Homo sapiens: one gene and its partners. The protein of the gene in region 5 interacts with the protein of the main gene of each other region in a pairwise test. Each region holds a gene or a part of one and is shown on either strand. Other genes may lie near its edges.

Region 1 (4,508 bases), on a different chromosome or scaffold from region 5:
TGTCTCGGGAAAAAAAAAAAAAAAACTTTAAGTTTACATTTCAGGCTGATTCTTGGCACAGGGGTAGCCTACAACAATCAAAAACACACAAAAAAACCCAGCAAATCCCGGGGAAGGGGGAGAATCTGATATCCAGAGATATGACATCATTCGATTCTTTTTTAATTTCCTTCAAGAATTTTTTCTTTGCATTCCTAACTTGGTGATCTGGTGCAAGAGGCCTAGCTTTTGGCCTATCTCAGTTTTTCACGTGCCTTCCTTACTAAGTGTAATAATTTCTAGCTTTTCTTTTTTGAGACAGTCTCACTCTGTTGCCCAGGCTGGATGCAGGGGTGCGATCTTGGCTCACTGCAACCTCCACCTCCTGGGTTCAAGTAATTTTCCTGCCTTAGCCTCCCTAGTAGCTGGGATTACAGGCATGCGCTGCTACCATGCCCGACTAATTTTTGTATTTTTCGTAGAGAGGGGGTTTCGCCATGTTGGCCAGGCTGGTCTCGAACTCCTGATTTCAAGTGATCCACCTGCCTCAGCCTCCCAAAGTGATAGCATTACAGGCGTGAGCCACTGCACCTGGCCTTGTACTAATTTTGAATAACTGACATAGAAAATATCTTCACCAGGCGGGGCGCGGTGGCTCACACCTGTAATCCCAGCAATTTGGGAAGCCGAGACAGGTGGATTACCTGAGGTCAGGAGGTCGAGACCAGCCTGGCCAACATGTTGAAATCCTGTCTCTACTAAAAATACAAAAAATTAGCCGGGCGTGGTGGTGGGCGCCTGTAGTCCCAGCTACTTAGGAGGCTGAGACAGGAGAATCACTTGAACCTGGGAGGTAGAGGTTGCAGTGAGCTGAGATCGCGCCATTGCACTCCAGCCTGGGTGACAGAGTAAGACTAGGTCTCAGAAAAAGAAAAAAGAAAATATCTTCACTCAGTAGACTAAATGAAAATGTATCCAAAAATTTACTGATGGGTAGTATACTGGCAATAGTTGCTAGTACTGCTGGGTTATTGCAAGGATTGGTATGTGGTCCATGATAGACAAGAAAACACTAACAGCTACTGATTTCTATGGCATGTATCTACATTACTGGTACTCAAGTTCAGCCATGCCAGTGCAGACTCTTACCCTTCTAACAAAAACATAAGGGAAAACATGTTGTTATCCAATAGTACATACAATAATCAGGAAAAAAATACAGCATACCTCATTTTATTGCACTTCACAGGTGCTGTGTTTTTTACAGACTGAAGGTTTGTGACAATTCTGCATCACACAGGCCTGTCGGCACCATTTTTCCAGCAGCATGTGCTCATTTCATGACTCTGTGTCACATTTTAGTAATTCTCACAATATTTCAAACTTTTTTATTATATATCTGTTATGGTGATCAGTGATCAGTGATCTTTGATGTTACTATTATAATTGTTTTTGGTGCCATGAATTGCACCCATAGAAGACGGCAGACTTATAAATGTTCCGTGTGTTCTCACTGCTTCACTGGCTGGCCTTTTCCTGCCTCTCTCCCTCTCCTCAGGCTCCCTATTCCCTGAGACACAATAATATTGAAATTAGGCCAATTAATAACCTACAATGGCCTCTTAAGTGTTTAAGTGAAAGGAAGAGTCACACATCTTTCACTTTTGTTTTGTTTTCTAAACAGTCAGGGTCTCACTTTGTCACTCAGGCTGGAGTACAGTGGTATGAACATGGTTGGCTCACTGCAGTCCCAACCTCCTGGGCTCAAGTGATCTTCCCTCCTCAGACTCCTGCGTAGCTGGGGACATAGCTGTGCACCATCATGCCTGGCTAATTTTTTTTGTTTTCTATAGAGACAGGGCCTCACTATGTTGAGGCTGGTCTCAAACTCCTGGGCCTGAACTCCAGGAGGAACCAATCCTCCTGCCTTGGCCTCCCAAAGTGCTGGGATCATAGGCATGAGTCACACATCCAGCTGTCTTTCACTTTACATCAAAAGCTAGAAAGGGCCAGGTGGTTTCTTTTTTGTTGTTTTTGAGATGGAGTCTCGCTCTATCACCCAGGCTGGAGTGCAGTGGCATGATCTCAGCTCACTGCAACCTCCACCTCCTGGGTTGAAGCAATTATCCTGCTTCAGACTCCTGAGTAGCCGGAACTACAGGCACATGACACCACACCTGCCTAATTTTTGTATTTTTAGTAGAGATGGGGTTTCACCATGTTGGCCAGGCTGGTCTCAAACTCCTGACCTCAAATGATCTGCCCACCTCGGCCTCCCAAAGTGGTGGGATTATAGGCGTTGAGCCACCATGCCCAGCCTAGGCAGTTTCTTTATCTCCCTATCAAACCAATCCTGTCTACCCATGCATAAAAAGATAATACTATCCTCCTACCTGTCTGAGCAACTCCAGCTTCTTCAGTTCTTCATTGTAGGCTTCTGGGTTCTCTCCATAATTCTTCAGGACAAACTACAGAGAGAGAAGAACATAAGCCAGTGGCAGAGAAGACCCCCGCCTTGCCCTCTGAGTCCTGGGCAAGCACCAACCAGGACTCAGGATTAAGTGCAGACCTACAACCATAAGCGTGTCTCCTGGACCACCAGGAACTTCGCCTCCTGAACAGGCAGCACCAAAATGCTGACCACGAGAGCCGTGACCCTGCACCAACACTCTGGCAGGTCCTCCTAACGCTGCAGTCTCTCTACAAAGTCCAGGAGTCTGCCAGCTCAGGAAGCCAAGGAACTCAGCGGACTGAAATGGGGTCCTAATAAGGATTCCAGAAAGGGTCACGAACTCAAGCCTCCCTAGAAGATTGGGCCCTGCTGCGTTGTGGGGTGACTACCATAACCCTAAGCTGATAGCAACTGCAGGCAAGAGGCACCAAACAAGAGTGGGAACAGAAAGCCTCTCTCACCAACCCATTCTCCTGGCCTGGGAAAGGACAGCATAGAAACATGTGATCTGCAGTGTCCTCATCTGTGAGGAAAGACTTGCAGCTGTGTGAGGAGAATGGCCCAGGTGGGAGAAGGTGAGAAGGGGAGGTCACTACCCACATCAGAGAGAGCACTGGAGTGCCTGTCCACAGTGGCACTCACCACCTCCAGAGCAGACTGTCTTGGACAGTGAGCATACACACCCACCTGGAGGCACAGGCTTAGCCCAAAGGGCCCCCTGTTCAACTCAGATCACCAGACTAAGGCAACTGCAACTGTCCCTGTTGCAGTACTTGCTGCTGGTGTCTTGGCTAGCAATCTGGGAGGCCAGATCCACTCACGCCACAAACACTATGAGCACTGATACCCACCTCACAGGGCTCCTTAAGGCCATGACCAAGGTTTGCAAGGTAGAGAGAGGTGGCTGAGAAAGGCTGAGATGAGGCAGCCTGCTCTGTCTGGGAGCACACTCACTCACACCATGTGTGTGGCCCACCCATCTTTCCTGAGGTCCCTTCCCAGGACCCAGGATGCATAGCTAAGGAATCAGCCACATGGGAACCGGGAAGCCTGGGTGACAGCTTCTGTCTGCCTGGTGAGCAAAGGGAGAAGAGGAACAGATGGCAGGGAGGCGACAGCTGAGCTAATTACAGCATCAAGCAACCCTTTCCCAAACCTCTGAGTCTAACCCTGGTTCTTCTGTTGGTTTCAGCTCCTGAAAGTCCCTGTGTCCATAAGCTCTTTTCTCTCTCCCCATGCCACCTCTGTCCTGGACAACCCACCCCTTCAAATCCGTCCCTTACCAAGTGGCCAGAATTGTTATTTCTAGCACAACTCTGAGGTCACTTCCAGCTTTAAATCCTTCTGAAACACACACACACCCTTAGGGAGAAGATAGACCAAAACATGCTTATCTCAGGACAGTGAGATGATAGGAAATGATATATAATCTAAAAAGAATGTGTGCAGTAGCTTCCCAAAGCCTCTAGGACCAAATCTAATTTTGGCACAGAGTTTATGACCCTGCACAACCTGTTCCTGGCCGGGTGAGGTGGCTCAAGCGTGTAATCCCAACACTTTGGGTGGCCAAGGTGGGAGGATCACTTCAGGTCAGGAATTAGAGATCAGCCTGGGCAAAAGAGCAAGACCCGTCTCTACAAAAATAAACAACCTGCTCCCCACAACCTTCAAGGATTTTCCTCTGGCACCTCCCAGGGACAACCAGCCAATAGTACTTGGGAATTGCTGCTCTCAGGTATCAATGCCTATCTACATTGTCCCTACTTTCTCTACTAAGACTCAGCCGAAATGTCACTGCCTTGAACATTAGCTGCTCTTCCGCTCACATTCCAAACATGCCTCCAACATACTGTGTGCCGACGGCAGGGTCATGCCAGTGACCCCAGCCTCAAACAATAAGCATTAAGGAATGGTAGGGGCCTTATCAGATGTGTTGTATACTCAGCAAATGATTGCTTTTACAGGAAATGCAGAGGACAGATGAACACGAAAAGGAAACACTCAGAAAAATTCAGAAAATGGGGCAACAATGAACCCACTCTCTTCAAAAAATTAATGTCATGTAAAAGGAGGGGGT
Region 2 (4,508 bases), on a different chromosome or scaffold from region 5:
TTAATTCTGAAATTATTCCCCTTTCACAATGACTGACTTTGCTTCCACCTCTCTTATTCCCTTTGTTCCACTCAACACATGTACTGTTCTTAGGGCAGCTGCCAGTCAGTCCACTGACATTTCTTTCTTGGTCTACCACCTCTATTCTGGCTTCACTATTTGCCCATGCAACCGGGACCCCAGATTTGTCACTGAAGAAACTGATTCATTACGCATGGACTTCCTTTCATGTTCTCTGTTTGCAGCTGGTCATGGGTTGGTCTTTCAGAGAAGTGACTAAGGTAAAGAATGGGAGAGACTAGAAATGAGCCTTCTTCTTAGAAAGTTTTAGTGTTTCCCAATTGCCTAGTGAACTAGGAAAATCCCCCTCACTCTTCAGTTCAAAGTTCTCCATTCCATGGTCCCATTTTCCCTGTCCAGTGAGTTCCCAACTGTGCTCCAATGAGGACTAAAGGTTCCGAGGAGTAACATCTGGGTTTCTAGGAAGGCCGAAGTGGAGGCTAAGCAGTCAACACTCCAGGTTTCACCCAGAGCAGCTCCACTTTTATCTATCAAATAACAATAAGAAATTGCTTAATAAATTATGTTGAATACAAAAGGCAGAACATTATTCAGCCATTAAAAACTACATTTCAGAAAAATGTTCAGTGACATAGGAAAATGTTCATGAGGCTTAACACCATCTATAGCATTATCTAAATGTTTCAATATGTTAAAAAGCCTAGAAAAAAATAATCTCGAGGAAAACACACACTGGTGTAAACCATGGTTATATCAGAAAGACAGATTGATGGGTGTCTTTTAAACCTTCTTCTGTCTGTTAGTAATACTTTTAAAGACAACAACAAAAACATGTCTATGTAATCTTTTAAAAGATTAAAAAATATTTTCTTTTTAAAAAAATTATCTTAGAAAAGACTGTTCCCCAAGGCCCTGGCTCTACATTTTCTCTTCCCTAAACCCCAGGCAGTGATTGATCAAACCTTACTCACCTTTGCCAGAGTCTTCCAGACTAACATCTGGTAGTTGCCAGCCACGAGAGAAAGAAGCCTACATTGCTGACCCCTGAGGTTTCAAAGACAATAAAACCAAAGGCAAAGGACAAAAAAAGAAGACAGGCCGGGCTCGGTGGCTCACACCTGTAATCCCAGCAGTTTGGGAAGCCGAGGCGGGTGGATCACATGGTCAGGAGTTCAAGACCAGCCTGGCCAAGATAGTGAAACCCCGTCTCTACTATAAATACAAAAATTAGCTGGGCACGATGGCAGGTGCCTATAATCTCAGCTACTCGGGAGGCTGAGGCTGGAGAATCACTTGAACCCCGGAGGCGGAGGTTGCAGTGAGCTGAGATCGCACCACTGCACTCTAGCCTAGGCGACAGAGCAAGACTCCGTCTCAAAAAAAAAAAGGAAAGAAAAAGAAAAAAAAGCAGACAACAATCCTTCAGGTGTGAAACATGTACACATGTCTGCATGTTGGTCTTCAATACTTCCAGAGTTACCTGCCTTTAAAGTCCTTGATGGTTAAACCTAAACTGTAAGCTACTTATAAAAGGCAAAAATCAAAATCTGAGCAAAGAGAACATGAATAATATTATCAACACTAAAAGCTGGCACAGAGTACTTAGCTCTTCCCAAACATCAGAGATTTCCTTGTAGGCAAGAAAATTTCTCCTACATTTTTAATACTCACCAGGTGCTTTGCCTTAGCGCGTTCCTCCTCGCTACATATCCTCTCCCGAAGGATGGCTCTGGTTAACTGCTCATTGGCAGCAGCCCTCTCTCGGTCCAGCTCTTTGGCTTGCTTTAGTCTAAAATGACAAGAATTGTCTAAGTTAGAAAAAATATTTTATTAGTTGACATTATTTTCTATCAAATGAAATAATTTAAAAATAGAAACACATAGCCAAAAAGGTCAACAGCTGAAATCATCTTGGCCCATAATCTATCAAAAAAGCAGGTATAGAGGTAAATCCCCATGCAGCCTCCACTCAAGCATTTCAAATAACCAAATTCAAATACATGAAGAAGCTTATTAATTTGGCTGCCAAATATAACTAAGTTTTACAAAGTTCTTCTTATGTAAAATTAAAATCTGCCCACCAAAAAAATTCCATCCCTGGTGCTTCCATTTGGCCTCTGAAAATTTAAGTAATTAACAAACCATCTAGGCCAGGCGTGGTGGCAGCTCACACCTGTAATCCCAGCACTTTGGGAGACCAAGGCAAGTGGACCACTTGAGGTCAGGAGTTCAAGACCAGCCTGGCCAACATGGTGAAACCCCGTCTCTACTAAAAATACAAAACTTCGCTGGGCGTGGTGATACATTCCTGTAATCCCAGCTACCTGGGAGGCTGAGGCAGGAGAACTGCTTGAGCCTGGGAGGTAGAGGACGCAGTGAGCTGAGATCATGCCACTGCATTCTAGCCTGGGCGAATGAGACTCCGTTTAAAAAAAAAAAAAAAAGCCATCTACATGACAAATATTTGAAGGTAACCATCGTCTCTTTCTCCAAACTTACTCAACTCGTCCATTTACTGAATGCACACCAGGCACTGTGCTAGGCATTGAGGACACAGCGATAAACAAGATGGACAGGTCACTGTCATTGTGGATGTTACAGCACAGCAGAGAAGCCAGACATTATGGAACTAATAAGGACATCTTTCCTCCCAGTATATTACCCCTATTTTCCAACAATCCTCATATGCAAATATGACCACGCCTTTCAACTGCAGGGCTCCTCACTTCTGGAATGACTCCAATCGATCTGTTAGCTCCAAACTAAACCTAACCCTCCAGACATGCTCTAGCAAACTAAGACAGGAGAATCTTACTTCCCTAGATCTGTACACAATACTAATTCTATTAATGAAGCATAAGATTGCATTAGATTTCTCAGTAGCCTCATCACACAATTAGATCATATTAAGTTACAACCCACTAAAACCCCTCATTGTACATGATAAAGATAAATTACTTTGGCACTGATTTTTGCCATAGTGCCTGGCACATAGAGGCATTCAGTAATCACTGAATCACTGAAGATTTCAGTCTAATCTCATGAACAAAGATTTTCTGACTGCCTTTTCTTCTTTGAGAGAATAACCCTACTATACCATCATATCCCTGAAGGTATAGCTATGCTTTAAAAAGGAAAAGTAAAATTGTTATGTTGGTGTAAGTGAAATTCTGAGTGAAATCTACTTTATACGTGTGAATGATGAGCACCAAATTCTACTCAGTACTAGCTTATCAAATTTTAGTTTTAAAAAGATTTTTGAAAAAAACTAGAGATAAAATTTTGTGTTACTATTTTTAAATTGCTACATCATCCTGATACTCTGGAATTCTCAGAAATCAACTACAACAGAAAAAAAAAAGTCACCTTGTGAGATATATTCCAAAGTTATCATCCTTTTCCCCTAAAAATCAAAGCTGTGTAGTTTTGTGTCTTAAATAAAAAAAAAGAGGACTAGAAACAAGTTAAAATCTGTATTTCGAAATTCTCTAATGCAAAAGTAACCTTTGGGAAACTTCCTAAGCAATAAGCACAATGACACTCATACAAACCAAATTTCTCTAAATTATTTCACAAGGACCATACAATAAATTCAGCAACATCAATGATATCAACACATTAACACCACTGGATATGTGTAATTGTAAGAGAACAGCAATAATTAGAAGTCACACCACTTCCTAGAACAGCAGTTCTAAAACTACAGTCCACAAACCAGCTGCAGTAGCATCAGCTGGGAGTCTGTTAGAAATGCAGCTTCTCTGATTCCATCCCACACTTGCTGAATCAGAAACTCTAGGGATAGTGCCTAGCAAACTGTCTTTTCATAAGCCCTCTAGAATTCTGATGCATGCTAAAGTTTAAGACTACAGCCCTTAATTACCAAAATACACTTGTACTCAAATAAATCCTGGAGGTAAATGAAAGTAACATCAAAAATGAAGTGCTCCCCATGAGAATATTGTGCAAATAACTGCTGAGGTTATCATATCAGATTACAATACTGTATTTAACGCATTTGTATGGACATCTTACCCCTAAGTAAAAAAGCATTACCTATTTTTACCAGTGAGGTGGAAACTAAAATAAAATAATAAAATTACTATCATTTATGGATCAACTACTAAGCACTGTGCTAGGCACTTTACAAACATATATAAAATGTTTATTCAAATTCTATTATTAGTTCATGAACATAAAATGAATTCTGTTCAACTGAATTATCACATCTACCACATTTGGTGTATCTAATTTTAAAGTACTGTTTAAAAATTACTACTTTTTTTTTCCATTTTAGTTTACTTATGTATGGCTTAGATTTTAATTACATATGGAGTTCTACATGGTTCAACTTTAAGAAATACAGGATCATAAGGATTTTGGCAAGTTAATGAAAAAGAAGCAAAACATGAGCACAAAAGCCTTCAATGTGATAATAAAAATAAACATATTTAGCTTGCCATGACTGGTACAGATATGCAAACTCT
Region 3 (4,508 bases), on a different chromosome or scaffold from region 5:
ACGTACTTGAGTGCTCAGGACCACGAGCTGATTCAAGTTGTACAGAATGGACACTTACAGATGTGTGGAAAATCTGAGACAGGAAATGAAGCCTCACCAGTAAGCTGAACAGGGGAGATTTAATGCAAACATTTGTCCCTGGCTGGGCACTGTGGCTCATGCCTGTAATCCCAGCACTTTGGGGGCTGAGGCAGGAGGGTTGCTTGAGGCCAGGAGTTTGAGACCAGCCTGGGCAATACAGCAAGACCCCATCTCTTAAAAGAAAAGAATAAAGAGTATTAGCCAGGCATGGTGGTGGAGCACACCTCTGGTCTCAGCTACTCAGGAGGCTGCAGCAGGAGGATTGCTTGAACCTGGGAGGTTGAAGCAACAGTGAGCCGTGATCGCACCACTGCCCTCCAGCCTGGGCAACAGAGTGAGACCCTGTCACTGACAGAAAAAAAGCCTTGTCCCTGAGGCAAAAAGCTTCTGAAGGGGTGAGTAGAAGCCATAAGGATCCAGAAAGTGATGGGGATGGGAGCTGCGCCTCCAGGTCTGAGGGGAGAGGGAAAGTAAGCAGGAGGCCCGTAACTCAGAGGAGGCCTCTGCCCATCCTGCCAGGGAGAAAGTCAAAAGCTGCTGTTCTGTGACCCTTGCCCCGACCCTGTGGCACCCCCCCAACCATGGGGCAGGAGGAGACACTCCTCAGAGGGTTGCACTTGTTCCTAAAAGCAGCAGGAGCTATTTCGATGATTGCAACATTTATAAAAGAAGAAATCACGACCTCCTTCAACAGCCCTTTGACCTGAAGAGTGTCGTTTTGAGTTGGGGTGTCCAGAGCCGCAGCTGCAGCTCCAAGAGGCAGATGTGCAGAGAGAGGCTTGCTTTGACCACACGGGGCAGGAGCAGGGCCCAGCCAGGGAGAGGCCGGGGTCTCAGCTCACCCCCCCGTCATTCTTTTTTGTTTGTTTTTTGAGACGGAGTCTTGCTCTGTCGCCCAGCCTGGAGTGCAGTGGCATGATCTTGCCCTACTGTAACCTCCGTCTCTCAGGTTCAAGTGATTCTCTTGCCTCAGCCTCCCAAGTAGCTGGGACTGCAGGCGCCCGCCATCACACCTAGCTAATTTTTCTATTTTTAGTAGGGACGGGGTTTCACCATATTGGTCGGGCTGGTCTCGAACTCCTGTCCTCAGGTCATCCGCCCGCCTTGGCCTCCCACAGCGCTGGGATTACAGGCGTGAGCCACCGCGCCCAACTCATACCCCGGCATTCTTTCAGGGACTGCCAAAAAGAGCAAGATCCTGTCCAAGGAAGAACAGAAAGTGGTTGCGTTTCATGAGTCGGGCCACGCCTTGGTGGGCTGGATGCTGGAGCACACGGAGGCCGTGATGAAGGTGGGTCTTGGCAGGTGCCGGCTCCACGGGCCTTGGCCAAAGGTGGGTGGGGAGTCCCGCCTGTGTCTGTAGCTGACTGGGGAGTCCCGCCTGTGTCTGTAGCTGACTGGGGAGTCCCGCCTGTGTCTGTAGGTCATGTGAGAGGAAAGCCTGCCACTGTCATGATCCATGGAGCAGGGTGGGTGGCGACTGATGGGCGGGAACTCGGACGTGGGAGGCAGGAGTGGGCTGTGTCACATCGGAGCATGGTGCTGCTACTGGGGTGACTCGTGGAAGGTTACACCATGCAATGGGGTTTCGCTGCCTTTGCCTGTCCACCCCAAATGACTCCTAACATTGGAAAGAAGTGAGTTGAGTGTACATTTAAAAAATACTATTCTAGGCTGGGCATGGTGGATCACCTGAGGTCAGGAGTTCAAGACCAGCCTGGCCAACAGGGCAAAACTGTCTCTACTTCAAACAAACAAACAAAAAACTACTCTTGTAGGCAGCTGTGAACTCGATGGACATTTATTCTTACCAAATGGTGATGTTACAGCTTCTCTAAGACGTGGCTCCACCACCGGGAGTCCGAGTGCTGCCAAGAGGAGGTCTCTACTCGGAACGCAGGTGCCGTCTTTACAGTGGAGCCCCAGGAAGCCGTGCAGGTTTGAGGCTCACCTGAGAAGGCGGCAGTGCTGTGTTCCTACCTCAGGGTTCACTGCAAACAATGCATACGCTGTAGCAGTTGCCAGCTTGGTTTGTCAGTGCTGGTCTCCGTGATTGGTTCTCAGGTGTGAGTTGTAGCAAAGTTGCGTGTTAATCAGAGAGCGTCCTGCCCATCCCAGGGTCTCAGCAGGGCTGAGGCAGCGTTTGGGGACCAGATCCGTGCTGCTCCTTGGCGATGTGCACCACAGTCATGGGACCAGAGCTAGGCCCACTGTGGGGCGAGTGGACACTCAGCTGGGGGTCCCATTTATGGGACACTAAAAAACTCAGCAGTGAACACGACGTTTTAACACGGTATGTCAAGAAATCAAAATTAATGCAGGGACTTTGGGAGGCCAAGGCGGGCAGATCACTTGAGGTCAGGAGTTCGAGACCAGCCTGGCCAACCTGGTGAAACCCCATCTCTACCAAAAATACAAAAGAATTAGCTGGGCGTGGTGGTGCGTACCTGTAACCCTAGCCACTTGAGAGGTAGAGGCACAAGAATCGCTTAAACCCGGGAGGCAGAGTCTGCAGTGAGCCAAGACTGTGCCACTGTACTCCAGCCTGGGTGACAGAGCAAGACTGTCTCTCAAAGGGAAAAAAAAAGAATTTTTACTGTATTTGATGGGCAAAAGTCAGATAGTCACAATGAAAAAGTGAGTCTCTTTCCCAAGGCTCAGTGTCCTGCCAGGAAAAGGTTGTGAATTGGCTGTTATGGTTTTGGTCATTAATGCAATCATCACTGCAGCCGTTATTTAGAGCTTCTTTTTGTTTTGAGACAGGGTCTCTCTCTCTGTTGCCCAGACCGGAGTCCAGTGGTGCGATCACAGCTCACTGCAGCCTCGACCTTCCGGGCTCACACGATCCTCCTACCTCAGCCTCCTGCATAGCTGGGACTACAGGCATGCCCCACTGGTGGCTCGAGTGATTTTTATATTTTTTGTAGCGAAGGGGTCTCGTTATGTTGCCCAGGCTAGTCTCGAACTCCTGGGCTCATGCAATCTGCCCACCTCTAACTCCCAAAGTACCGAGATCACAGATGTGAGCGACCCCGCCCAGCCTAGTTTTAGATTTTAAATTAAGCGTCCTCGGGATTCTCAGAGCACTTGGATGTGGCCATCTCGCCGCCACAATTCTCAGAAGCAGCAGCTGGGCCAGCCCCTGCCCCGTCTCCGTCCGTCTCCCACTCAGCGGTTCCGTGTTGTCGAGTTAGCTCGTTGCCCCGCGCCACCTCCTTGCACACCTGATGTGGGGCTGTGGGGGAGCAGCAGAGGTGAGGACAGCCTCTGCTGCCTCAGCATCGTGGGGTTCTCATTGCTCTGAACCCTCAGTAGCTGTCGCTGGTGTGAGGGGTCAGCGCAGCGGCCATCGGGGGTGAAACTTGTCCTTCGCCTCTCAGCTGTCTTCTACGGGCCTTGTCTTCTTGACTCCCTGCCTGTCTAGTCATGTATGAGAAGACACTTCCCGGCAGTGTGTGAACAGGCACCTGTGGTGGGAACGCTGCTGTCTCTGGGCTGGCCATCTAGAGTGTTAGGATCCCCTGTTGTTGTAGAGGATGCTGCACATTTGCCTTCCTGCTTTGAGACGCTTTAATGACGGAGACCTCTTAGTCCCACACCTTCCTCCTCAAAGCCCACGCATCCTGCCTACTGACCTGGGTCATCTTGACCTTGTGCCAGGTCTCCATAACCCCTCGGACAAACGCCGCCCTGGGCTTTGCTCAGATGCTCCCCAGAGACCAGCACCTCTTCACCAAGGAGCAGCTGTTTGAGCGGATGTGCATGGCCCTGGGAGGACGGGCCTCGGAAGCACTGTCCTTCAACGAGGTCACTTCTGGTGAGGAGCAGCGGCGCGGGCCCTGGAGGTTTCAGAGCGCTTTTCCCTGCATGACTCCTTCTGTTCCAGTGCATGCCATGGGGTGAATCTGGTGTAGACGTAGCTTTGAATTTATTAAGTATTTTGTAAAAGATAAGTTGTGGTCATAAGAGAGTTGGAGCTAAGCAAGACTTCTTAGATAATTTAATTGGACAAAAACTTAACCTATATGCCAACTCTAGACACATTTAATTGGTTAATTGTTGGTAATGGCTACAGGAAACGGAATAAAATTGAAGCGGCTTCATTGTTCTGAAGCCATTACTGCACTGGGATATCCAGAGAGCTGAAGGAGGGTCCCGGGGGCCCCTGGGCTCCAGGTCCATGGGTTTGCCTCGCATAGGCCTGGGCTTGTGCTTGAGAACTGCCATGCAGTGAGCTCCAGTATGCCCCCGGGTTCTAGATTTCCAAATAAAAGAGCATTTCGGAAAGTTTTAAGACTCTCTTAAGGAACAGTGGTGAGGTGCCAACGTCCTCACTGTCCAGCTTCACGGTGGGTCCTCGGGAGGAAGGGGATGGAGGTGGTGCTGCCTCAGTGCTCTGACCGGGACACCTGGGGCCCAGCACTGCT
Region 4 (3,690 bases), on a different chromosome or scaffold from region 5:
TTTGTTTTTGAGACAGAGTCTTACTCCGTCTCCCAGGCTGGAGTGCAATGGCATGATCTCAGCTCACTGCAACCTCCGCCTCTCAAATTCAAGCAATTCTTCTGTCTCAGCCTCCCGAGTAGCTGGGACTACAGGTGCATACCACCACGCCCGGCTAATTTTTGTATTTTTAGTAGAGACAGGGTTTCACCATATTGGTCAGGCTGGTCTCGAACTCTTGAGCTTAGGTGATCTGCCCACCTCGGCCTCCCAAAGTGCTGAGATGACAGGTGTGAGCCACTGTGCCCGGCCATCTCTTGTTTTTTTAATTTTTTGTATTTATTTATTTATTTTTGAATAAGTTATCTCTGGCTTGAAGTTGATATGAGCTGGGGAGAAGGATGTCTTTGTAACCCCAGTACCACCAATCTATGAGCTTTCAAAGTTCCTTGAGAACTACTGTCATCAAGTTAACAATCTTAATCACCCTTTGTCTGAAGCACTAGCTTATGAGAGTTTTTTAAAAGCTACAAGGATGAATACAACAGATTCTCCGCCCGGCATAAATTGCCTCAAAGAAAGTGACTAGAGGAGAGTTGGATGCCATACAGTAATTAGAGAGTAGTATGATAAAGCTAGGAACAAGTGTGAGGGCCAGGATCTTAAGGATATGTGTCTTAGCTGAGCCTTAGCCTAGAATTTAACAGCTGTCATATAATTTTAATTTTGCCAATAGGAAATTGGGGAGAATGTGCACATTTACCTGATTGGGAAAGAGTCATCTCGTACCCACTCGTTGGCTGTGTCCTTGCACTGTGCAGAAGATGACTCCATCAGTGTAAGTGGCCAAAACAGTTTGTGCCACCAGATCACTGCGGCCTGCAAGCATGGTGGAGACTTGTATGTGGTGGGAGGGTCCATCCCACGGCGCATGTGGAAGTGCAACAATGCCACCGTTGACTGGGAGTGGTGTGCTCCTTTGCCTCGGGACCGGCTCCAGCACACCCTGGTGTCTGTGCCCGGGAAAGATGCCATATATTCACTGGGTGGCAAGACACTGCAAGATACCCTCTCCAACGCAGTCATTTATTATCGCGTAGGTGATAATGTGTGGACAGAGACAACTCAGCTAGAGGTGGCTGTGTCAGGGGCTGCTGGTGCCAACCTCAACGGGATCATCTACTTACTAGGGGGGGAGGAGAATGATCTGGACTTCTTTACCAAACCTTCCCGACTCATCCAGTGCTTTGACACAGAGACAGACAAATGCCATGTGAAGCCCTATGTGCTGCCCTTTGCAGGCCGCATGCACGCAGCTGTGCATAAAGATCTGGTGTTCATCGTGGCTGAAGGGGACTCCCTGGTGTGCTACAATCCCTTGCTAGACAGCTTCACCCGGCTTTGCCTTCCTGAGGCCTGGAGCTCTGCCCCATCCCTCTGGAAGATTGCCAGCTGTAACGGGAGCATCTATGTCTTCCGGGACCGATATAAAAAGGGGGATGCCAACACCTACAAGCTTGACCCTGCCACTTCAGCCGTAACTGTCACAAGAGGTATTAAGGTGCTGCTTACCAATTTGCAGTTTGTGTTGGCCTAAGGCTGTGGGGAGGGGAGGAGAACTGCTCACTCCTTTTCCCTCCCCATACAAACTCAAAGTCCCCTGGGCCCCAATTCAGAGTTATGTTTTTTTTGGCACATACTAGAAAGGCAGTGCCTCAGCCCTTCCCTGAATCCATGGAGGTGTTCTGTTTGGGGCTTTTTAGACTGCTGCTGCTCAGCTGGTTGCTTGAACTGACAGTAGGCCAGCCTGTTCTCTGCCATTCCCTAGTCATCCTGTGCCTCACCACAGCTTGCTTAGAGCAAGCCTTTTCTCAGACCTTAGGCACAGCCTCTCCTCTTTACCTGATCAATGTTAAATGTAAGCACCCCTGATCCCAGGACATAAGGAAAGATGCCCAATTGTACTTTTGTTCTATAGCCTGTGAAATGGCTAGTTGATCATTTTTCCACAAAGAATTAGGTGTTAAGAGTTTTCCTTCAGGCTTTACTTAGGAGAATGGACTAAGCTGAAGGTGTACTTCACCAGCAAGAGTCAACTCTAGAATTCAGGATGTTCCTTCTATTGTTTTCTTATCCATCTGTCAGGAAATGTAACTTTGGTTTTATTTTTGGCTTATTCCAAGGGGTAAGCCAGAAAATAGAAATGATTATTTCTGATTAATAGCAGAAACTTTTTCAATCTCAAATATATAAGGTGTCTGCTCTTTTAAAAGCTCTAAGCTAAGTCAAGAGCTAGGAACTGTTGATACAAATAAAAGTTTTTGAAGGGATATGTGTGTCTGTGTTGAATTCCAAAGGGGTGACTTTGAAGGGGTGAGGGTGTTTCATTCCCTCAGGGGAACTCATTACGTACCATCACATGGCTCAGTCTGCAGCAGTCCTGACTGCAGCCCATGCTCCCACTTCTCCAGATAGGATCCCTACTCCACAGGGCCAGTGAGATTCAGATTCTGACAGTGGCAAAGAGCCAGAGGTGAGTCTCCTTTTTTCAAGTGCTAAATGTTTTTTGAGTTGTGGTGCTAAATATTATTAGGCACAATATTAGGTACATAATAGATTTTTGTTAAAATACTTCTTTAGCCCTATTCAAGAAAAGATGATAGCCCCATCCCTGTCCTGTATCCCATGAATACAAGCCACACTAAATCTTTTCCTTTCTAGCCACACAACAGTGTTATTTCAAGAAAACAAAACAAGTCAGAGAAAGAAAAATTACCTATTACCTATTGGCACATTTCTGTTACGTCAAGTCTGGGCTTAAGCCCTGTTGGTCCTGTTAAGCTCTTTTTGTTCTGTATCAAGCAGGAGTGTCTTGAGTTCTTTCTAATCCCCATACATCATGTCTTTGAAATGACAAAAGTCCCATCCTTTGTTGCCCGTGCAGTAATCTGCTTGTGGAACTCTTTAAGAACATCCAGCTGGCCAGGCCTGATGTGGATGTATGACCGGATCTTGGCGATGGCTCTTACAGCCTCCTCTGGACTCCATTTGTGCACCTGAAGTACAGGGTTGGGAAATCAGCAGAGAAAGAAAGAAGCAGGTGTCAAGGTGCCCTTGACCCATGAGCAGGTGCTAAAGGACTCTGAGATTTCATTTCTTTGGAAACTCTATTTTGCAGGCATTAAAAATCATGCTGCTTGTATTATAAATGGGAGAGTACTGTAACCACTGCAGTCAGCCAGTCTCACAATACTATGCAACAGGTCAGGTGGAAAGTCAGTCTTTCTACCCAATTCTTGCTCTGCCAAATCCTAGAAAAAGGAAGTTGCACATGGGAAGCTGAGATCCTAAGTTCAAGACTGCCTCAGCCTACTCCACGTCCTCTCCGAGCTGGGCTTTTGGTTACAAGAATTTCTAGGAACGAGTATGCAATAGATGTTTTTATGCAACTTGTCACCATGGCTAGAAAAACAAGTAACTCATAATTTAAATAGGAGGGTTAACATGTCCTAAGGATACTCATTGGTTTAGAACTCAACAGAACCAAGAAAATACAGATTTCTAACTTGCTAGTTCAATTCTCACTTGGTGCAAAATACCCTCCTGAGACCCTGCTTCCAGCAGAGCCCTTATGACCAAAATTTTAATATTACTCAACTATATACACACTAGTCCACAGTAACACAAGGCCAGACTTAGCTATTCACATGA
Region 5 (4,508 bases):
GGTACAAATCTTAAATCTTCTTAGAGTCTACAGTGAAGGCTTCTTGAATCCTCCTAATTTATTATTGTGTTTTGCTAAGGTACCAATTACAGCACACCCTTCTAAACTTTTGAGTGTTCCTGTGTTTGGCTTGTGGCCAATTGTTAATTTAAACATCACGGAGTTTCTAAGGCAAGGAGATGTTAGCAGTATGTCTGATTGTCTAAACAGCTATCCAGGACCATACTCTTGCTCCTTGTTTTCTTTTGCTTTGCAATGGGAAGTGACTCCCTGATTTTGCTGCCTGCTAGATAATTTCTCAGCTGAATTCTTCTCTTGCTTAAACAAAATCGGAGTAATTTTCTTTCAGATGGTGATGAAATTTAACCTAAAACTATTTTTCCTTTCACTTTCTTATTATTCCTTTTTTTTTGGTGTGGTGGAGAGGAGGAGGAGAGTGATTCCTAGTCTCTCTTATTTTTCTGAATGTTTAGATTTAAAAAATATTTACCCATAACTTCTTGGGATCTCTCTGCTCCATTCCCACCCTACTGCCTCTCCTGTAGGCTTCTATGACATAGAGAAGCAACTTTTGGTTCACCTGGATTGTAGTTGCTGACTTCAGGACCTTTAGAGAATGTTTAAATTCAGTGGGATATGCTTGGATGGTTCAGAGCAGCCTTACAATACATTTTAAAAATATCACACCCACAGAAATTCTATTTTGCCCACAAAATTTGCATTGATCTAGTTCCCACTCTGTGTTGCCATTCCTAGTGATCCTCCTCCCTACCTCTCCCATTATGGTAGAAAAAAACTCTGTGTCCTGGCTACATCAAAATCTGTTGGGGTGGATCTTGGACTCAGCACCCAGGGATTCTGATAAGGTAAGTTTGAGAATCCATATTTTTTCAAGGTTTACAGGTGATTCTGACAAGTAACTTGGTTGCAACCCACTGATTAAGTACATTTTTTTTTTACCTTCAGGTGTGTGTATGAGGTCTTTCTAAATTTAAGAAATTTCCATAACAAATGTAACCTTAGTCATTCCAGTGTTTAACACTTCTGACTCAAGAATTTTAAAATTGCTAACGTAAGAGATATAGAATATAATGTCATTTCTTCTGTTTATCTGGGTGCAGTATGTCTGCATTGACCCTTTAGAAGGGCTTCATATATTTAGATGATATAATAAATTCTCTACCTCTCCTTTTCCCTTTTCTTCTGTTATCTCTTTTTCCTTAAATGTCATTCATACATGTTGTTTTTTGACCCTTTATCTATATACGTCTGCAATGATTTTAGAGTAAAAAACTGCAAGGCGTGATTTGAATAAGGATATAAGAAATTTTACATCATTTTCTTTATATTGTGTTCACAGTCCATAGTTACATGCTTCCTTTCTTGATGTCTCAGTTCGAATGCCTAAATTTGAACTATTAATTTTCCTTCCACCCTTTCCTGATTTTCCTGTTTTTGTTTCCCCCCCTTTCTCTGCAAATGACTTGAAACCAAAAGGTCTTCTTTTCTTTCTTTGTCAGTCTACCATATGTGTAGTATTTTGGACAGATCACTGAACTAGGAGCCAGAAGACCAGAATTCTTCTCCAGGTCTGTTATTAATTGGTTTGGTGACCTTGTAGGAGAGCCACTGTTTTGGTCCTCCATTTTCTGATGTTCATTGTTCATGGTCACAGAGCCAATTAGAGTTGAGACTAGAATTCCTTTCTTCTGGTGTCCAGTGCCTCATTCACTGTCCACATTGCTTCCATCTCGTGTACAAATGCGCTTATGTGCACAAAAACTCTTATAACATCCTCAAGTGCTTATTGTTAATGCGTACATGAGGAAGGAATCGTGTATTTTCATTTATGTGTTTATTCTAATGCCCATACCCTACCCCTGTACCTGGCATGATGCCTTGGTATCTAATAGGCACACAATAAATACTTGTTCAGTCGAACAATTATTTTTAGCCACTTTCTTATTTTGGACAACTGTGGTACTCCTAGACATTTTAAAAATAGTATTTGCAGGAGTCATGCTTACCTTACATTTGGGGAAAAACCAAATTTTTCCCTTCCCCAGATGTTTCATTTAAACTTGTAATTTTGAATTTCTTTGTGTGTGGGGTTTCTTTCTTTCTTTTTCTGATCACTTCTGCAATTTATAAAGGTCACTTTGACTTTGGAATCTCACTTCAAAGGCACTGCCATCCACCCCCTGCCTCTCATTCAAGTTTGCTTCCACTGCTTCCTGTATTACTGTATTACTAGGCCAGCAATTTCTGTTATTTTGTCCAGAATAGCCACACCTTATTGTAATTTCATCATTTTGGGGACTAGTCATTTTTGGAATACTATTTTTAAAATTAGAGTTAACTAAGTTTATATTTATTTTGATAATTTTTTTTGAGATTTTTTTCATTGAGTTGGATATTGCAAACTTGTACTGGATTGAGAGAATATGTACATTTAGTAAAGTATATTTGCTTTTTTTTTTTTGAACCAAGAGAGTCCCCTGAACACCCTACTGACAAAAACTAAAGGTGAAATATGATGAATAAATATTTGAGAGAATCACATGGTGTTGAGTTGTCTCTGCCACATGATTTTGATCCTTGAGGGCCAGGTCTGTGCTACACACATTTCTTCTCTGTACTACAGAACTTGTCTGGCATGTGCCCCAAATTCAGAGTCAACTGAGCGGCAGGTCTTAGTCACAGCATCTGTGACTCCTGCTTTCCCACCTTTAGAACATTCTATAGGAGAGGCTGATGGTGAGTTGGAGTGTGTTTCTATGTTCTTTTTTCCTTTGAAGAGATAGGATCAGTTGAAAGCTGACCCCACCCACAGACTTTTTTTGCTATCTCTTTTAATTAATTAAGGAGTGGCTGAAATTTTCCTCTTTGTTGACTTATGCATTGGCGGGAACTTTAAAATTCATCTAGTCTTTCTGTCCATCCCATGCTGGATCTGATGTTTACAACATTCTAGTCAAGAGGTACCATATTTTCTCTCTTCTTGAACATCTCTTGTGGTAGACAGCTCTCCACAGCAGTTTATTCCATCTTTGGCCAGCTCTAATTCTTAGAAAGATCTTCTTATATTCAGCTGTAATCCATCTCCTCATGACTTGTCCTCATTGACATCTACTCAGAAATTTGTCTCAGAGTCCTGAGACCTGTGCAGGTGATAGGGACCCAAAGAGATGCTTGTCTGTAGACTTTACTGAGCTGACACCCAGCTCTCCATAAAAGGAGTCAAACCCAGTGAGGAGCATGTCTGGGGTGATTGCTCAGGTAAAGCATCTTAGCCCTACTTGTTTCATACCTCCCTGCACAGGTGGGCACTGGTGGGAGAATAACATTTATCAAGCAGTGTTTCCCTAACCTCTCTTATGATAAGAATAGCTCAGGTGTTCTCATGGAGATTCTGATTCAGTGCATCTGGAATGTCATCTGGGAATTTGTGTGTTCAAGAAATAGCCAGGTGATTCTTACATTAGGAAAGTTTTAGAATCACTGCAGAGTGAATCTGGGAAATCAAAGTGTTTGTTTTTGTTTGTTTGTTTTTTGAGAGTATTAGAGACAGGTTGCTTTGGCTAGATCCTGTGGTCATTTTTCCCCCTTGGAAATGCCTCCTACTTGCTGGCCTCACTTAGTACAGAGAAGAAAGCTGCTATGGTATAAGGTTAGTAAAGTTGTTTGTTTTGTCTTAAAAGAAATTTGCGAAATCCAGCATTTTCGGACTTCTGTTTGTGTTGTATGACTTTGTTGTAAGCCTCCTTATTCCTCCATTAGAATGTTACCTGAGATGTTAGAATGCATAGGAGTTCCACAGCCTTTTTGGTGTCCACTAAAGAATTCTGTCCTCAGCCGTTGCAAATGGTGCTTCCTTTGAGGATTTCTGCTTCATTAGCTCATGAACACATATTTGGTGTCGGCAGTTTCCCTCAGATGTGTTAGTGTGGAGAGATATAAAGGTCACTCATTTCTGGTGGTCCTGCTTTTGGGGTTTCTGGGCTGCTGCAGCAAATGAAATAAGGAAAGGAAAATAAAGGAGGAATCTAGGGCTTCTTGAGCAGAACAAAACAATCTGCAAGAAGGGGCACAGGATTGCTCCTCTCACAAAGACACTTGATAATACTGTCCTTGATAGGAAGAAGGAAGTGGCTTCAGATCTGAAAGGATATGCTCATAGGCTTGAGACGGGACAAACTGCATCACTGGTAGTGGTAGGAGGTTTGCCGTAGATCTGTTTTTTCTCCTGTCTCTCTTTTTTGAGGAGAATATTATCTGTATGGCAGAACATACATTGTGGTCTTAAAAAGGAGAGTAAAGCCAAGAAAGGGGGATGATAAAGCCATAGCTTGGAATAAGAAAAGCAAAGGAATTATTGTATTAATTTGTGTATGTAAATACATAGGTTTCCATGTAATTCACTGGTAGGATCACTAGCCCTTGGCACTAACATTTGCTATCTTTGTAGCTCTGCTGTCTTAGTGGTGTATTGGGGGAGCATTGTGGTG
Region 6 (3,850 bases), on a different chromosome or scaffold from region 5:
AAAGCGGTTGGTCTGTGTTCTCTTTCCTTCCACTGCACATCTCATCAATCAAGTTAGAAGTTTCGAATAGAGGCCGGGCGCAGTGGCTCACCCCTGTAATCCCAGCGCTTTGGGAGGCTGAGGTGGGCGCATCACGAGGTCAAGAGATCTACCTCATCCTGGCCAACATGGTGAAATCTCTTCTCTACTAAAAATACAAAAACTAGCTAGGTGTGGTGGTGTGCGCCTGTAGTCACAGCTACTTGGGAGGCTGAGGCAGGAGAATTGCTTGAACCCGGGAGACAGAGGTTGCAGTGAGTGAACTCCAGCCTGAGTGAGACTCCATCTCAAAAATAAAAAAAAGAAGAAGTTTCGAATACGTCTCCCACTTGGGTTTGGGAGCTTCTAGTTTCATTCCAACCACTTACTGTGTGTCCACTATGTGCCAAGAATTATGCAAGATAAGTTTATGCATCTTCGTATCTTTGGAGGTAGATGAATAACGAATATACACATGAATGCATGAGACCGGGAGGTATAGGTAAGAACTAGCCAGACCCAAAATTCCAGACAAAATATTAACAATTTCCACTTAGCCCTTGATTTTTCCCCAAGGTGCTGACAATAGGGGACCCCTCCAGGATCTCTGTTAAATACACATGTTCTGGTGAGGGTAGAATTAAGTATGAGACAGGAGGGCACATTCAATGATTTCTAAATAGTGTGGGGTCAAAGGCCCCACGTTGGACAAAGCCCAGAGGCAACCTCCCCCAATCTTAAGATCATGGTTTGGGATACCCACTGCACACAGGAATTTGTCACTCTGTTCTTCCATGCCTTTATTGGTGACAGCAATGGACAAGAACAATACCAGGCATAGCAGACACCCTAGCCCAGTACCTGAGGTGCCAGGCAGGCCCTGAAGGGCCATTGGCACATCCAGTCCCAGCCCAAGATCCAGTCTACCCAGGCCATGTCCCCGAATGGGCAGGAGGCCGTCTGTCCAGTTTGTATGTGTGGATCAGTCTCTCTGAGTGTCTGAGCCGCTGCCTGCAGGGCCCCCCCATTCTCCGCACATGGTAGGGGCTGTTAGGAACATAGCGTGGCATCCCCCGGTGGACCACTGGGCCCCAGTGCTGACCATGGGGATTAGGGCCAGGGATTGGAGGTGGCAGAGGGCCAGGCACAAAGTTCACTCCAGGGCCACATCCTACAAAAGAACCAGTCATTATAAGAGCAGGCTTCTGGCCAGAGTGAGTGCAGCTCTGCCTTGAAGCAACTCTTGTCCTCCAGGTGAGCTTCTCTGTTTCCCTATCTACAAAAAAGGGATAGTCCTTCCCCTACCTTCAGACGGTGAAACAGTGACAACCAGTGAGCTGATTAATGAACCTACAGATGATGTTTCAGACTCAGGGACTGCTGTGACCAAACCCAGTGCTAGGGGCACAAGGAGCTACCCAACTCCTCTCAGCTCACCTAGGCATAGGAGGCTGGGTAAGGGGAGGTACAAGAGGGTGGGGGAGCTGCAGAAGCACCTACCTAAGTGGGGTGGCATCGAGAAGTCCTCCACTGGATTATAGTTGAAGAATTCATGGGGTGGGAAGGGCTGGCCTGGGAAAAAAGGGGTATCCTGGGGCAGGGGTGGGAAGAGGGGAGGTGGCGAGGGCTGAGGAAGCGGGTAGGGAAAAGGCATGGGAGGAGGCAAAGAAGAAGGTGGGGGTGGGAGCAAGGCCAGGTGCTCCCCGAAGTCTGGGGTCTGCCTATGGCTTCCCTGGAATGGATGATTCATCTCTGCCCAGTCCTCAATCCACGGGTCTAGGAATGGGATGGTTGTTTTAGGTAGGCTTGGGAGCCAGGCTGCCCTGAACTCTGGCCATCCACACTTCTAAAGCTCTATTCCTTCCTCTTGGAGAGCAGAGCCACCAGGCTGGAGCATCCTTGCCCTCTACCCAGTTTTCCTCATTCCCTCTCATTTCAGGCCAAGCCCAAAGTGTGTTCCTTCTCTCTTACCTCTCAGACTTACCTTTGTTCTAACCTACACTTCCCTCCAGAGCCTTCTTTGTTTGCCCAGGTCTTGTATCTAGCTTTTTCCTCGCCCACCTCCTCCCCATAGACCAGTAAATAAGCCAAACATAAAGATCCTGTTATTCCCTTCCCCAACAACTTCCTTTTACCATCCAAACTTCCAAAAGGAATGTTTTGCCCAATTTCCACTTCCTCCTCAATTGCTCACTCCCTCCTTTAATCCAAACCCATGCCCTCAACACTTTTCCTACTAAATGTAACCACTTGCTAACAAATTCCCTTCTTCTCAACAGTCATGTGACACTGCCAGCAGCCTCAGTCCTTCCTAAAAGTGCCCCTGCCCTCATCTCCTTTTGTTTCCGCCATAGCCCCTCTTTCCTGCCAATCCAAAGCATGAGCATCGTTCTGTCTCCCTCACAGCTGCCACTGTGCCCTCAGTTTTAATCTCTCTGCTGGGTACCAATGACTGCAAATCTACTCTGTATTTCCAAAGAACCTCAAATCAATCTGCTGTGACCAAACTCACCAACTCATCCTTCCACCCCAAATCAACTCTCCCTTTTCATGGCCCTAACTTCTGTAGCTCCAAATTGGATTTCAAAGGCCTAAGCCATCAAAACTAGCCTTACAACCTTCAGGGCATCCCATCATTTGCTGGGGATCAATTATTACATCTAAACAAGAAAATGGGGATGTTTAACCAAAATCTGTATTCACCTCCCTGATGCTCCAACTCCTGGCTACCAAGTGTTACAGGTCTGTCTCTATGATATTCCTGGACTCTCTGTGCCCCCACATCCTCTTGTGCTGCCATAATCGGCCTTCTAACATGACTCGTGCCTCCCATTCAACAAATACAATTCTGTTGATACTGTGTACAGGGAAATTGTGCTAGACACTGGGGCTGAAAGGGGTGAGTCGTCAACAAGTGCAGCAGGAAACTTGCCCTTTAAGGACACGATGCAGGGGAGAAGCAGCCATGGAGACAATCAGCCATGGTGCCCTCTTTGTGTGCATGCAGGGACTAGGGTGTTGACATGGAAACAGAGGTTCTGCAGCAGAGTGTTACAGTTGAGATGTGATGGGGAGCAGTGCCTCAAAACAAGGGGGAGTGGGGCCCTCAGAAGCCTCCACCAAAGGCCCAGAGATGGGGCCCGAGGAGAGCTACACCAAGCTGCACCAGTCACAGTGGGACTCTGAGGCTGAACTAAGAAGCCTATGGAACACTGTCCATTGAGCCCAAGTCCATAAGGCTGGCCTTCCCGATGCAACATCCCTGTTCCACACCCTGCCAGTTGACTGTACCCCCACCCCCCAGCTGTGGGCTTCTTTGCTTCTGCCACACTGCCTGGATGGCCCTTCCTCCCTGTCTTTCCACTCCTCACACCCATGCCCCATTTCTTTCCTGTTAATCTGTTGGGTAGGACCCTTGCAACATGCTGCCTTATGTGGTCAATACTTGTACAAGCTCCTTCAAGCACACAGAAATGACTACACAGCCAGACTGTAGAAAACTGGAACTTGGACAAGAATATTGCTCCGATGATCTAACCCTCCTCAGGGGTTGAGGAAGGTGCATGCAGAAGCCACAGGAGTCCTTCAAGGGACCTCTACTTCCCTTGAGTGGCTGTGTCCCATTCTGTTTCTGAGCCCTGTCCTCTGAGGGCCCCAGTGCATCACTACCCCCCCACTTATGGTAGGGCTCACCAGGGGGATAGCCACGCTTGGGCAGCTCCACGCCCCAGGCGTCAGCCACATGGGTCAGAAGCAGGTGTGAGAGGTGGCGGTGTGCATGCTGGTCCCAGTGGACACCATCCCGATGACGGTGCTGTACTGCATGCCGGAA
Region 7 (3,912 bases), on a different chromosome or scaffold from region 5:
TGAAATGTCACTGAAAAGTAGATACTATTAATATTTCCATAAAATTATACTGATAGTGACTGGGGAGCAGAGCAATTATGCAAATTACCCAATTCACACGGTTATTGGTTATTAAATGATAGTATCAATGCATCTCTATGTAATGCCATATTGGATAGAGAAAAACTGTTTGGGGAGTCAAGGAGCCTTTTTTCAGATGTTTTTCGTAATACCTATTACTGCAACTTTCTAAAGCTCAAGTTTTCTCGTATGAGTACTTGAAATAGTAAGATCTACTGTATAGAATTGTGAGGACAAAGTGAATGGCACATGTGGGCACCCACAGCACAAGGTTCTTCAGAGTAGGCATTCCATGAATGCCAGTTTCCTCTTATTCCACACCCCTTCTCTTCATGGAAAACCATCCATGTATACATAGAACATGTAGTATATACATCTATCCACACATACACACAAGCGTATTGATGTACTAATGATACAGATGTTGGGCTCTTGTTTATATTAGAGAAGAGCAGACATAAAAAGGATCAACATACAATTTCATAAGCATTCAGCTAAATATGACTGTACCTATTACTAACGCCATTCAGCTGATGCAACCAGGATTTTACAAGAAGACTCTAGCAGCTGTATACACAGAGTATTAGGTGATGTCCGAAGTATACAAAGTATCCGGTTATACAAACAGTATTAGGTGATGAGGGCCTGGGGTTGGGGGTTGGAGTGAGTGGGGCTTTCTCAAATACATCAGGTACAAATCGTCTGACCTAAAATACTGAGATAAATTCAACATGTTAGTACAGGACCTCCGGGATTATACCATTTTATTTTTATATTTCTCCCCCAGTAGTAAAATAGTCTAGTGTTGTCTCATTGAGAAACCAACTTTCTGTTTCAGAGATTTCACTCCTCCAGGACAGAGGGAGACTGGATAAGCACAAGTATGTCCCTCAAACACCAAAATAGAAGAAAGTGTTATGATTTAAATTGACTAGCCAAAAGGAATTGGAACTTAGAGCCAGCAGATAATTTAAAATCCCATTAAAATAGCTACTGGAGCCACTGGGTATGTCAGTATGAGAAAAATATAGAGGGATAGTTGAAACTAACTAAAATCATACATTTTTTAAAACAATTTTACCAGAAATACATATTCTCAAATGACCTTTAAAGTACTAAAACTTAGGAAAACAATAATTTATCCTGATGCTTTTCCCTATGTAAAGCAGTTTAGAAGCTCCTTTTTGGAAATTGACATCAAGGCCAATGTAGAAAGCAAAATAAATTCATGTCATAATCAGTGTATTTTTTAACCAAGAACAATATTTTTTCAGTTGGAATATGAGAAACCATGCAATACATAACCTTGAAATAATCATGAAAAATGTCAAGATGCCTGACTTTCTTTAAGAGGTCTACTTCTCTGCTTTTGTTCACAGTAGGATACATAATTTTAACTTGGCCCAACTTCATTATCTATATTCAAGAATATCTTAAACATAAGCCAAGGTTTCAGCTTCACTCAGCTTATTTATTTATTGAAATGACTAAAATGAGCACATATTTTTGAATAAAGATATTTTGGTAGAAAGTCAAGTCTGAATAGAATTCTGAAATAAAGCAAATCACAACTTAGAAAAATAAATTCTAACCAAGCAAAACATATTGAAATTGTCCATATTTCTGTCATATAGTTTGCAAGGATTTTCATTTTCTCTTATACTTGTTCCAAGTTACTCACTTCTGGCAATTTCCAAGAAGAATAGAATTTTTCTTCAAAAAGATGTAAGTTCTCACTGTTTCAAAGAAGTTGCTACAACTTTCAAAGACAATTCTAAGAGAGGAATCTTAAGAATGTTTGTGCAATGGTGGTTATAATTGGAATAAGCACATAGGCTTTAAAATGTGTCTGTTTTGTTTGGATAATTTAAGAAGGATAGATCCTATTAAAACTCAGTCGCATTGGTTTATAGATAGACGTAATCAATGGATGGCATTGCAAGGAGCATCCAGTTTTATGGAGGGTGGAAGCCTCACTTCCTTGGCTATAATAAAGAGTTCTGATGCATCTTCATACAACAAGAGGAAGAGTCTGCACGCAGAAGCACCACCTTCTAGGGATAAATAAAGGGTCAAGCTAAGGAAGGGCAGAACAAACTTCAGACACTCACTTCTTTGCCTCAACTTCAGCCTGCTCTCACAACCTCACTATGTCTTGCCCCAACTACTGCTCGGGAAACTCCAACTCAGGATCTCTCAGAACCTCCCGCCATATTCCTCTCACCTCCATCGACCTCTGCCCTACCAGCGTGAGCTGTGGAGATGTCCTCTACTTACCCACTAGCTCTCAAGACCATACCTGGGTCACAGACAACTGCCAAGAGACCTGCGGTGAACCAACCAGCTGCCAGCCGGTCCACTGTGAGACCGGCAATCTTGAAACCTCTTGCGGTTCTTCCACTGCTTACTACGTGCCCAGGCCTTGCCAAGGAAGCAGTTTTCTTCCTGCTTCTTTCTTCTCCAGTTCCTGCCTTCCAGTATCCTGTAGACCACAGAGGTATGTGTCCAGCGGCTGTCGTCCACTGAGGCCGCTGCTCAATAGTTACCAGCCCATAGGAGACTGTGTGCCCAATGCCTATCGCCCCCAATTCTGCTTGTCCAAGAGTTGCCAGCCCCAAAACCTCCTCACTTCTGGATGCCAACCCTCGAGTTGCTTGGCCTATCGTCCTCAAAGTCTTCACGTTGTGTCCAGCAGCCTCAGACCTCTGGGGCCTCTGTTCAGTGGTTGCCAACCTCTGACCCATGTGTTCAGCACGTGTCGTCCATCTTGCTCTGGACTGTGAAACCAGCAGCTTCTTTGTTCCAGTGAATAATCACTCTGAGCATCCACAACAAAAATTCAAACTCCATGGACTTTTGCTTCTTTGCTAGTAGCAACTGATGTTTCTTAGTTTTACTGTGCCTGATCTAATGCAAGCTGCTTCTCTCGCATGTTTTATCTTGTTTTCATCTTTCCTTGACATCAAAAAAATTAGTTTACAATGCTATTCAATGTTGCTCTGGTCTGGGAAGAATGTATTTGTTTTGCACTATAATAAATGCGATTAAGTCCAAATTAAGAATCTGGTTCAGCGCTTTGTGTTTCATGACTTAATTTCAACACAGAAATAACCAACGTCAATTGCTTGCAAGATGACTGAGCTGGACAAGTGATACTCAACCATATATTCTTACCTGACAGTAGAGGGATTGTTTGATGGTTTATTCCTTAAGCTGCTTTTTAGACTTCTGACCCTATGTACTTGAGAGACCCAAAAAGTCCTTGGGAAAGCTGTTTTGAAAAGGAAAAATTAGGAGTGATGTCTCTTATCTCTCTACCCCATGAACACACTTCCACCAGAATGTTCTTTCTAATTGCAAACCTAACCAAGTTTCTGCTTACGCCTTTGATGGCTTCCTATAATCTATTCCCATAAGATAAATATTCAAACCTCTTAGCATGACACCTAGTTCCCTCACTGTCTTTCTCCCCCATACCTCTCTGGCTTCATGCTCTTTTGCTCAATATTGCAAATAATAAAACTAAGCTCCTGCGATCCTGACTTACACATGGGTCCCCAAACATATGCTTTTTACAGTCATCCATCCTTTTGCATAGGTCATCATCGAGAGCGGTATGTTCTTCAGCTCTGTTTTGAAAACTCATACTTGCTTTTACAAAAACACAGTCTTGAGTTCATTAATTAATCTTTTGATTTATTCAGAAACAAAGGTACTGCTTGCATACTATATGCCAGGCACAAAAGATACTGAGGTGAACAAAACAGTCCTGAACTATCACAGAATTTGCCAGAAGTTATAAGCTATGGGACATGTAACAATTAAAGATACATTTTTTCTCTCACTCAACCT

The links.
Region 1: the proteins of NOTCH2NLA (region 5) and PTPN23 interact in binary tests that used the Homo sapiens proteins (3 or more experiments, as listed by UniProt).
Region 2: the proteins of NOTCH2NLA (region 5) and CHCHD3 interact in binary tests that used the Homo sapiens proteins (3 or more experiments, as listed by UniProt).
Region 3: the proteins of NOTCH2NLA (region 5) and SPG7 interact in binary tests that used the Homo sapiens proteins (3 or more experiments, as listed by UniProt).
Region 4: the proteins of NOTCH2NLA (region 5) and PTPMT1 interact in binary tests that used the Homo sapiens proteins (3 or more experiments, as listed by UniProt).
Region 6: the proteins of NOTCH2NLA (region 5) and PCED1A interact in binary tests that used the Homo sapiens proteins (3 or more experiments, as listed by UniProt).
Region 7: the proteins of NOTCH2NLA (region 5) and KRTAP26-1 interact in binary tests that used the Homo sapiens proteins (3 or more experiments, as listed by UniProt).

Annotation. Positions count from the first base shown.
Region 1 is NC_000003.12:47,394,082-47,398,589, reverse strand, and holds part of PTPN23 (tyrosine-protein phosphatase non-receptor type 23), read right to left. Parts: intron 2,448-4,508; coding exon 2,373-2,447; intron 1-2,372. UniProt on the Homo sapiens protein: Plays a role in sorting of endocytic ubiquitinated cargos into multivesicular bodies (MVBs) via its interaction with the ESCRT-I complex (endosomal sorting complex required for transport I), and possibly also other ESCRT complexes.
Region 2 is NC_000007.14:132,973,477-132,977,984, forward strand, and holds part of CHCHD3 (MICOS complex subunit MIC19), read right to left. Parts: intron 1,811-4,508; coding exon 1,693-1,810; intron 549-1,692; coding exon of another isoform or gene 501-548; exon of another isoform or gene 1-500. UniProt on the Homo sapiens protein: Component of the MICOS complex, a large protein complex of the mitochondrial inner membrane that plays crucial roles in the maintenance of crista junctions, inner membrane architecture, and formation of contact sites to the outer membrane.
Region 3 is NC_000016.10:89,549,238-89,553,745, forward strand, and holds part of SPG7 (mitochondrial inner membrane m-AAA protease component paraplegin isoform 1 precursor), read left to right. Parts: intron 1-1,256; coding exon 1,257-1,372; intron 1,373-3,741; coding exon 3,742-3,898; intron 3,899-4,508. UniProt on the Homo sapiens protein: Catalytic component of the m-AAA protease, a protease that plays a key role in proteostasis of inner mitochondrial membrane proteins, and which is essential for axonal and neuron development.
Region 4 is NC_000011.10:47,570,816-47,574,505, reverse strand, and holds the end of PTPMT1 (phosphatidylglycerophosphatase and protein-tyrosine phosphatase 1), read right to left. Parts: intron 3,036-3,690; coding exon 2,877-3,035; 3' UTR 1,577-2,876; downstream 1-1,576. Other genes in the region: KBTBD4 (kelch repeat and BTB domain-containing protein 4), read left to right, coding at 716-1,576. UniProt on the Homo sapiens protein: Lipid phosphatase which dephosphorylates phosphatidylglycerophosphate (PGP) to phosphatidylglycerol (PG).
Region 5 is NC_000001.11:146,222,084-146,226,591, reverse strand, and holds part of NOTCH2NLA (notch homolog 2 N-terminal-like protein A), read left to right. Parts: intron 1-4,508.
Region 6 is NC_000020.11:2,834,521-2,838,370, forward strand, and holds the end of PCED1A (PC-esterase domain-containing protein 1A), read right to left. Parts: coding exon 3,712-3,850; intron 1,795-3,711; coding exon 1,519-1,794; intron 1,190-1,518; coding exon 942-1,189; 3' UTR 794-941; downstream 1-793.
Region 7 is NC_000021.9:30,318,334-30,322,245, reverse strand, and holds KRTAP26-1 (keratin-associated protein 26-1), read left to right. Parts: upstream 1-1,930; 5' UTR 1,931-2,210; coding exon 2,211-2,843; 3' UTR 2,844-3,122; downstream 3,123-3,912. UniProt on the Homo sapiens protein: In the hair cortex, hair keratin intermediate filaments are embedded in an interfilamentous matrix, consisting of hair keratin-associated proteins (KRTAP), which are essential for the formation of a rigid and resistant hair shaft through their extensive disulfide bond cross-linking with abundant cysteine residues of hair keratins.